Linked DNA regions of Homo sapiens: regions 1 and 3 are each reported to be linked to region 2. The links are microRNA targets in miRTarBase. Many come from high-throughput screens and were not tested one by one. Region 2 holds a microRNA gene; each other region holds the end of a gene's coding sequence.
Evidence for each region. The annotated mature microRNA hsa-miR-143-5p reads GGUGCAGUGCUGCAUCUCUGGU and lies in region 2 at 1,037-1,058, opposite strand. An mRNA with a match to its seed (bases 2 to 7 or 8) in the 3' UTR can be bound and repressed. Matches are read on the target gene's strand: a 7mer-m8 pairs with bases 2 to 8, a 7mer-A1 pairs with bases 2 to 7 and ends in A, and an 8mer does both.

Region 1 (3,000 bases), not on the chromosome of region 2:
GGCGTAAAGTAGGTCTTTCTCTCTCTGCAGAAGTCATAAGGACGAGGCTCCGGGAAGAGGGCACCAAGTACAAGTCTTTTGTCCAGACGGCGCGCCTGGTGTTCCGGGAAGAAGGCTACCTTGCCTTTTATAGAGGACTGTTTGCCCAGCTTATCCGGCAGATCCCAAATACTGCCATTGTGTTGTCTACTTATGAGTTAATTGTGTACCTGTTAGAAGACCGTACTCAGTAACAGGCCGGAAAATTGTGCTCTAGAAGAATAAAACTGAAAAACTCTAGAGAATTTTTTTTCCCCATTGATGTTTAGAAAGTTTGAGACTGAAACAGGAAAGGCCATAAAATATCTGGTTCATATCACCTGTTGGACATTTCCTTTTGGATTCATGCTTTCTGGAAGGTTTAAATTCATTAACGTTAATAGTTAATTATAACTTTTTTTTTAACTTAAGAGGATTCAGGGTTAAGCACCAACTAAATTAAATCATGCTATTTAATTTAAGTATACATTTGGCTTGTGTCCTCTTTTATGCTCACTATACTATGAAGGACTTAAGTAATTCAGATAAACCTGCCCTAGAACTGCAGAGAAAAATGATAAAGTGAGAATACAACTTGTTTTATAATCTGACTTTAAGATCTTGCACTGCTAGACAGGGAAGAAGTGTCGCATTTTGGCTGGGCACTGTGGCTCACGCCCGTAATCCCAGCACTTTGGGAGGCCGAGGCAGATGGATCACGTGAAGTCAGGAGTTCCAGACCAGCCTGGCCAACATGGCGAAACCCTGTCTCTACTAAAAATACAAAAATTAGCCGGACGTGTGCCTGTAATCCCAGCTACTTGGGAGGCTGAGGCAGGAGAATCACTTGAAACCCAGGGGGCAGAGGTTGCAGCGAGCTGAGATCACGTCACTTCACTCCAGCCTGGTCGACAGAGTGAGACTCCATCTCAAAAAAAAAAAAATTGTGTCACATTTTGGTGGTGGTGTGTGGACCAGGACAAACTTCCCAGCAATTTTTCTTCTTTGTACATTTCCAATTACTTGCAGATTGATCATCTAAGCGTTCAGACTGCTGAGATGAATATATATAACTTTCTGAGACTCAATATTTTAAGCTATAAAAAACTTCCTGAAGTTATCCTTTTCTCCCTACTTTGAACCAAAGGCAAGAATTTTTAAAGAACTGTTTTATCAATGGCCTGGCTCCTGGATATAGTTCCGGAAGTTAAGACCAGTTGCCTTGTTAAGTGTGTTGACAGCACAGCTACCCTGTTTGGCTGTGAATCCAGAATGTGATGAAGAACAGTCATTCCCACTGAGGTCTTTAGCCCTGTTCTTGGACCTCTGCTCTTGCAGAAAAGGAGCACAACGTAGGACTATGGCTCACCCGTCAGAGAGCTCACATTCTGATAGAAAGCACTGGGATTGTTTAAATATCCTAGTTCAACATTAAAAAAAAAAAAAATTTAATCCCAGCACTTTGGGAGGCCAAGGCGGGCAGATCACGAGGTCAGGAGATCGAGACCATCCTGGCTAACACGGTGAAACCCCGTCTCTACTAAAAAAATACAAAAAAATTGGCCATGCGTGGTGGCGGGCACCCATAGTCCCAGCTACTCGGGAGGCTGAGGCAGGAGAATGGCGTGAACCTGGGAGGCGGAGCTTGCAGTGAGCTGAGATGGCGCCACTGCACTCCAGCCTGGGCCACAGAGTGCGACTCCATCTCAAAAAAAAAAAAAAAACCAGGATGTTACCCCCTTGGTTTTAAAGCAAATTTAATAAGGGAACAAAAAGATGATACTAAGAAGAAGGCAAGTAAAACCCCTAGTCTTCCATTAGCTCTTTCACTGGAATTTGAGTATATTGTACATGAAGGTTGGTTTTCAATTTGAACGTCTAGAAAGATACTCATTTCTAATACCTATGCACTGTAGTTTCAGGTTTACTTGCAGACACCCTGGTAGGGTTAAGAGGAGGATATTTCCAAGTTATTTTAAATTGAGTTTACTTTTAACTGGGGTTCTTGACTCTAGTGTAATTGCTCCAACAACTACGTAGAAGTCAAAATGAGTGACTTTAGTGAAGCTTCTGTACTTTACAATACATGACAGTAATGCTATTCCAGAAGTTTTGTTTTGTTTTGTTTTGAGATGGAGTCTCGCTCTGTCTCTCCCAGGCTGGAGTGCAGTGGCACAATCTCGGCTCACTACAGCCTCCACCTCCCGGTTTCAAGCAATTCTCCTGTCTTAGCCTCCTGAGTAGCTGGGACTACAGGCATGCGCCACCACACCTGGCTAATTTTGTATTTTTAGTAGAGATGGGGTTTCACCATGTTGGCCAGGCTGGTCTCAAACTCTTGACCTCAGGTGATCTACCCGCCTCGGCCTCCCAAAGTACTGGGATTACAGGAGGGAGCCACCATACCTGGCCCGCGCCGCCCCTTCCTTTGTTGTTATTGTTGTTTTGAGACAAGGTATCACTCGATCACTGAAGCTGGATACAGTGGCAAGATCATAGCTCACTGTAACCTCAAACTCCTGGGCACAAGGGATCCTCGCATCTCAGCCTCCCAAGTAGCTTGGACCACAGGAAAGTACCACCATGCCCAGCTAATGTTTTTTCATTTTTTGTGCAGACGAGGTTTTGCTATGTTGTCCAGGCTGGTCTCAGACTACTGGCCAGAAGCGATCTTACCTCCTCAGCCTCCCAAAGCACTGGAATTACAGAGTAACATCTAATTTTAATATTCACATTCCTATTTTAATATTCATATTCGATGATGGCACTTAGCAACATCCTCCTATATCCATATTAAAACCTGTTTTCCAAGATTGTGTCTAATATGAAGGTGTAAAATTGCTTTGTTTTCACTCCTTCTTGAATGAATAAATTTGATAGTAACCAATTATAATTTTAGTTTTCTGCTTCTCCTGCCCCAGGGCATGGAAATGCAAGCTGCTTAGGCACCCAAAGTAGGAAAGAAGTGATGGTTCCTCTGTA
Region 2 (3,349 bases):
TGAGCTGCTTAAATAAGCCTCAGTTTTTCTCATCTGTAAAATGGGGCTATAACACCACCCACTTCCCAAGCTTTTGGGGAGGTTAAATGAGACTGTGCTTGGCTCCATGGCTCTCCTCTGCTGCTCATTGTGCTTCTGAAGCCTCTGGGAGAAGTCAGACATTTGTGACGTGCCTGGACTGGTTTCGGCAATACCCCGGAGCCAAGGTTAGAAGTACAGAGTGAAGACCCTGACTCAAAGGCCAGAATTTTTATCTTCAGGGCTGAAAGGGTTTTTAGGAATTGTTTGATCCACAAATGATGAATGAGTTTCAGCTGTGAATCAGTACTAGTGGCTTTCCAGGGCTCATTGTTGAGGATTCTGAAGCTGCATCTGAGCACTTCAAGAATGGATGCCTGGCGGGGCGTGGAGGCTCATGCCTGTAATCCCAGCACTTTGGGAGGCCGAGGCGGGCAGATCACCTGAAGTCAGGAGTTTGAGACCAGCCTGGCCAACATAGTGAAACCCCATCTCTACTAAAAATACAAAAATTAGCCAGGTGTGGTGGCGCACACCTGTAATCTCAGCTACTTGGGAGGCTGAGGCACGAGAATTGCTTGACCCTGGGAGGAGGAGGTTGCAGTGAGCTGAGATTATGCCACTGCACTCCAGCCTGGGTGATGGAGTGAGACTGTGTCTCAAAAAAAAAAGAATATATGCCTTTACTGATTAGCTGTGTCTGCCATGGGCTCAGAAAGAGAAAGCAGAGGCAGGGTGCTGGGGAAATGCTAACGCCTCATGCTAAGATGGACACACTGGGGTACACAGAGGAGTCAGGACATGCCCAGACTCGTGAAGCAGATCGTGGCACCAGGGGAACTTGTGTAGAGGAACTTCCCCAGCATCACAAGTGGCTGATAGTATGGAGTCTGGAAACACTCTGTCCTTCCTGTTATGGCCCCCCACAACCCCCCAGCACTTACCACTTCCAGGCTGATGGCTGCAGAACAACTTCTCTCTTCCTGAGCTACAGTGCTTCATCTCAGACTCCCAACTGACCAGAGATGCAGCACTGCACCTCAGGCTGGGAGACAGGGCGCTGCGCTGCTCCGCTCTGGTGGCCTGTGGCGGGACTCCAACCTGGCCAGGAGAAGGGGTGTTAGAGGGGACCTGGGCTCCACCTCTCCAGCTCTGGCCGGGAGGCTGTTGTAATTCCTCACAACTGTGTTTCCTGTCTGTGGCCTGCCATTTGAGCACCCAGGACCAAACCTTGACCTTTTTTCTCTTCTTTTCTTTGTTTCTTTCCTTTTCTTGTCAAGAACAGCTTAATTTAGAAGGAGGACATTTAGTGAGTACAATTAACAGGTTTTTAATATATTCACAAAGTTGTGCAAACAATGGCACAATATATTTTAGGTTATTTCACCATCCAAAAAAGAAGCTCCTTATCCTTAGACAACCCCTAGTCCTGGGCAGACCAGTTTCTATCTCTATAGATCTGTCTATATATTTTCTGGATATTTCAATACATGGAATTATTTAATATGTTGACCTACCTTTTGATGCCATGCCCCACCTTTATGCTTGGCGCATTCCAGCCTAACAGCATCATTCATGGTACTTAACATTTTATATCATCGAGCAATCAATTGTCTCCAACCTATCTTTCTTCTGCCACTCCTCCTCTCTTCCCAGCCATCTTCCCATAATGATTTTTCAAGATGCAAATATGCTCATATCTTACTCAAGTTTAATATCCCAAAAGGGCTCCCCATTGCCCTCAGGCTGAATTCTGAAGCCCTTCCCAAAGCCTGCGAGGGTCTGCCGCATCTAGCCCCAGTGACCTCTTCCTCTTGGGCTACAGCTCATAGATGTCCTTCCATTCTCCTAGGGAGCCCTGTGCCCACCCACTTCGGGCTCCCAGGGACTGTGCTGCTCCCCGTCACTCTCCCTGCCCATCTCTTCCTCCTGTGCTAGGTCTCTAATCAAGTGGCCACTCTGGGAAACCCTCCTTGACTTTTTTTTTTTTTTGAGACAGAGTCTCCCTCTGTCGCCCAGGCTGGAGTGCAGTGACACGATCTCGGCTCACTGCAAACTCCACCTTCCGGGTTAAAGCAATTCTCATGCCCCAGCCTCCCAAGTAGCTGGGACTACAGGCGTGCACCACCATGCCTGGCTAATTTTTGTATTTTTAGTAGAGACAGGGTTTCACCACGTTGCCCAGGCTGGTCTAGAACTCCTGACCTCAGGTGATCCACCCGCCTTGGTCTCCCAAAGTGCTGGGATTATAGGCATGAACCACAGTGCCCAGCCCCTCCTTTACTTCTTTAGCCATCAGCACCCCCTGCTTCATGTTCTCGCCCACCCGGTGCCCTCTTTCTAACCCTTTACCATGCTGGTAATGTGGTTTTCACTTACGACCACCTCCACTTGTGGACTACATGGCTCACCTGTGAAGGGAAGGGACCCTGTCAACTGTGCTCACTACTGAAATCAGGGCCAGGTGGTGTAGATGCCACATAAGCCCAGGTTGAATGGCTGAATCATAATTCCCAATCTCATTATCTCTAGTATCAGTGTTATTTGTGTGTGGGTCTGACCTGGCTAGATCTCCACTTCCTGAGGACAGTGCCTGTGTCTTGTTAATTTGGGGGGCCCTGGGTCTGACCTGTGGCTTGGTACATGATGATGGACCTAGGTAATGCCATTTGGTGGCTGATTGGATGACCATGTAGATAATTCATTTTGTTTTCTGGGCCCGGCTTGGGTGGGAACTTTCAGGTGAGCAGGCAAAGCCCCTTCTCACTCTTCCTGCCCTGCCAAGATCTCAGGGCACCCCAGAGGACCTTCTTGCATTGCTTAGTGGTCACTGTGGTGGCCTTGATGTTGGATGACATATATTTTCAGGAATGTCTGAAGGGGATGGGTAGCCTTTCTTCAGGGCTGAGAGAGAACAGAAAAAATATACCTCCTTAAAAAAACAAAAACAGAGCTGGGAGCAGTGCTCATGCCTGTAATCCTAGCACTTTGGGAGGCTCAGGCAGGAGGATCGCTTGAGCCTAGAGTTCAAGATCAGCCTGGGCAACATGGGGAGCCCTTGTCTCTAATAAAAAAAAAAAAAAAGGCTGGGAGCAGTGGCTTACACCTGTAATCCCAACCCTTTGGGAGGCCAAGGTAGGCGGATCACCTGAGGTTGGGAGTTCGAGACCAGCCCGGCCAACATGGTGAAACCCTGTCTCTACTAAAAATACAAAAATTAGCCAGGCGTGGTGGCGGGAGCCTGTAATCCCAGCTACCTGGGAGGCTGAGGCAGGAGAATGGTTTGAACCCGGGGAGGTGGAGGTTGCAGTGAGCCGAGATCTTGCCATTG
Region 3 (3,349 bases), not on the chromosome of region 2:
TTGAGTACCTCTGCTCTAGATTTCAAAAACAGATGTGGATATATGTGTAAAAATTTGGTATATAAAAAAGATGCTTTTCTAGATGGGTAGAAGAAAAGATTGTTCAAATGTCCTATGGTCTCACAATCCAGTGGTTATAACTGTAAAACTCATCCAGCCTTTGGGAGACACTGAAACTCCATTTAAAGATAAGAACTTGAAGGATGTTTAATGTAAACCTAAATTGATTTTCCCTTCAACTCCTTTTGGGTACATAATTACTTTTACCTAGAAGCTGTTCTTGACTTTACTCATAACAATTATACCATGACCTCACTGTCCTTCTCCAAGATGAAACAAAAAACCCTTCAAGTGGGCCTGGCCAACAAGACTGAATCTATTGAGCCTATTGGTCAAGTTAGCCTTTGCTTAACTTTCCCCAACCCCTTCACTCCAGCCTTAGCTGGGATGCTTTTATATAATTTTCAGAGCATGGAAGAGAGACAAATAGAGCTTCCTCCTGCAATTGGCCCAAGATTTTAGGGGAGCAAAAGGCAAAAGATTGAAATCAATGACTAGGATGATGCCATGCCATAGTTCGCTGCAGGATTTCTGGCAAGGATTATGGATCATAAATTTCAAAATACCATAACTAGGACTTCTAGTCACAAGGTAGATGTGGAAATGATGGTCCAGAAGGTATATTTCGAGGCTTGGCATGAGGCACATAAGAGAAGACAGAAGCATGGCCTATCAGCGGATGTCATCATCCTCTGGTCAGGATGGAAACCAGGGCATTGGATAGAAATAAAGTCCCTCAGGTTATTTCTCCATGTAAAACCTGGAATCAGGGTACAGTGAGAGTAAAACTCAGTGCCCTTTAACTCCCCAAGTCTTCAAAACTCATTTCTAGACCAGGGTGTAGTGGTATTTCTCCAAGAGAAACCTACCAAACCAGGACAAAATCCCTGTAATAGCCTTCACTTATCTCCTACAAGTCCTTGAATTCTTGGCCACAGAAGACATTTCCTTCTTCTTTAACCCTCAGAAAGAAAGGGCCTGAGGAAACTAAAGTCAGTGGTTTCAATCTTTTGCCTTTTGCTCTCCTAAAAGCATGGGCCAAGGGCAGGAGGAAGCTCTAGTTGTCTGTCTCCCATGCTCTGAAAATTCTACAAAACACCCCAGCTAAGGCTGGAGTAACAGAGGAGGAAAGTTAAGCAAAGGCTAACCTGCTCAATAGATTCTTCCATATGATTGAATTTTAGAAATATAATAAAGTTCTTTTATGGGCCGGGCACAATGGCTCACGCCTGTAATCCCAGAACTTTAAGAGGCTGAGGTGTGCAGATAACCTGAGGTCAGGAGTTTGAGACCCACCTGGCCAACATGGTGAAACTTCGTCTCTACTGAAATACAAAAATTAGCTGGGCGTGGTGGTGGGCACCTGTAATCCCAGCTACTCGGGAGGCTAAGGCAGGAGAATCGCTTGAACCCAGGAAGCAGAGGTTGCACTGAGCTGAGATTGCACCATTGCACTCCAGCCTAGGTGACAGAGCCAGACTCTATCTCAAAAACAAAAAAAAAAAAAAAAGGTTTTTTACTTAAGAAAATCAGAGTTCATGGCTATGATTGTGCCACCTCTCAATTAGTTTTAATCTTTGTGAATTTCAATTTGAGAGAGAGTAAGACACTTTCGTGATCTCTTCTGAGAATGCCAATTACCATATTGACTAAAGTTGAAAGTCGTGTCAGAAGTTGGGAAAACCAGAAGGTTTGTTCCGCTTTCAATGGCTTGGCTCCTCACCTCTCATCTGGGTAGTTCTTTTTTTTTTTTTTTAGACAGAGTCTCGCTCTGTTGCCCAGGCTGGAGTGCAGTGGTGTCTCGGCTCACTGCAAGCTCCGCCTCCTGGGTTCACGCCATTCTCCTGCCTCAGCCTCCCAAGTAGCTGGGACTACAGGTGCCCGCCGCCACACCTGGCTAACTTTTTGTATTTTTTAGTAGAGACAGGGTTTCACTATGTTAGCCAGGATGGTCTTGATCTCCTGACCTCGTGATCTGCCCACCTCGGCCTCCCAAAGTGCTGGGATTACAAGCGTGAGCCACCATGCCCGGCCTCCTCTGGGTAGTTCTGAGAAAAGGGCTGTCTCTGTGACAGAAACATAGCTCTTTCTAAATGCCCTGATGCATGACTGACTTATTCTCCCTCCCTCATTCTTTCCCGATGAACTGAAAGGTCTTCCATGCTCTGTTCAAATTGAATGTTGGCCAACATCACTCTCATTCCTCCTCCTGGCAAGAATGGCATCCTAGGGTCCTAGGGCCCGCGAGTGATGCAAGAATTCTAAAACCTAGTTTCAAAAGAGTACCTACTAAAGATTTCATTCACTTTCTTGTGGTTCTAGTAAGGATTAATGTTGAATAAGAAGAGACACACATTAGAATGTACATATACATACACATAGAATATCCTCCTGTTCTAAATCCACATGAGAACACAGGCAGGCCTACACTTGAGATTTTTTGACACTTCATTTTTATAATTATCAAGAAATTATTAATTTTATAATTATTAAAAGCTACCAGTGTCTTCAGGCTTTGCATCTCTAGCACAAGGGGTATCATTATTCCCGAGTGGCACATCTTCATTCCCAATTCAGAAAGTACACATTGCCCTGCACGTCTCCCACGGCAAGCTGCAGGGTGGAGTTAGCGCCCAGCCAAGGTTCCAGGCAGCTCACTGACCCTTCGCATCGGAACAGGCCCAGCTACGATGGGAACAAAAATAGGGGAGGTCAGGGCTACAAGCCTCCTTACTAACTTATTTTTTCTCACATTAATGCCTTTTATTTAGAAACAGGTTAGTCATACATTGCAAGTGATTGAAGAAAACAGAATTTTGATCTTTTGCCCTTTCTTACTCTAAGTTTGCTGTCTTGTGACATCCCTTTGGGATAGGTGTGCAGGCGCACGCACACACACACACACACACACACACACACTTACCAGCTGCATACTGGGTCTCTCCCATAGCTTAACATCTCTGTCCTTCGAAGCTGTCACCAGCAACTCAGGTAGCACATGGAGGGCTGTGACAGAGCCCGAGTGAATCTCAAAGAGGAAAGGGGAGAGCAGAATGGTGAGTTCTCAGGGGCCCCTCCTCAGAGAAGCATCACAATGTGCTGTGTCAGACCTACAGCCCTCCTCCCTTAGTATTTCTTTTTTTTTTTTTTGAGACAAGAGTCTCGCTCTGTCGCCCAGGCTGGAGTGCAGTGGCGCAATCTCGGCTCACCGCAAGCTCTGCCTCCCGGGTTCACACCATTCTCCTGCCTCAGACTCCCGAGTAGCTGGGACTACAGGCACCCGCCACCA

Region 1: miRTarBase lists SLC25A33 as a target of hsa-miR-143-5p. Seed matches in the 3' UTR shown: 7mer-m8 at 1,687-1,693.
Region 3: miRTarBase lists TEP1 as a target of hsa-miR-143-5p. Seed matches in the 3' UTR shown: 7mer-m8 at 1,849-1,855 and 7mer-A1 at 1,320-1,326.

Annotation. Positions count from the first base shown.
Region 1 is chr1:9,582,269-9,585,268 of GRCh38, forward strand. It overlaps SLC25A33 (solute carrier family 25 member 33), which reads left to right. Exons shown (of 7, transcript NM_032315.3): 7 at 31-2,905. The coding sequence ends at 233. Among named protein-coding and RNA genes, the nearest start is that of TMEM201, 5.1 kb to the right of the region's middle.
Region 2 is chr5:149,426,653-149,430,001 of GRCh38, reverse strand. It overlaps MIR143 (microRNA 143), which reads right to left and starts at 1,084; the gene lies at 979-1,084. CARMN (cardiac mesoderm enhancer-associated non-coding RNA) reads right to left here. Exons shown (of 5, transcript NR_105060.1): 4 at 963-1,119.
Region 3 is chr14:20,365,815-20,369,163 of GRCh38, forward strand. It overlaps TEP1 (telomerase associated protein 1), which reads right to left. Exons shown (of 55, transcript NM_007110.5): 54 at 2,984-3,088; 55 at 1-2,745. The coding sequence ends at 2,623. Among named protein-coding and RNA genes, the nearest start is that of PARP2, 24 kb to the left of the region's middle.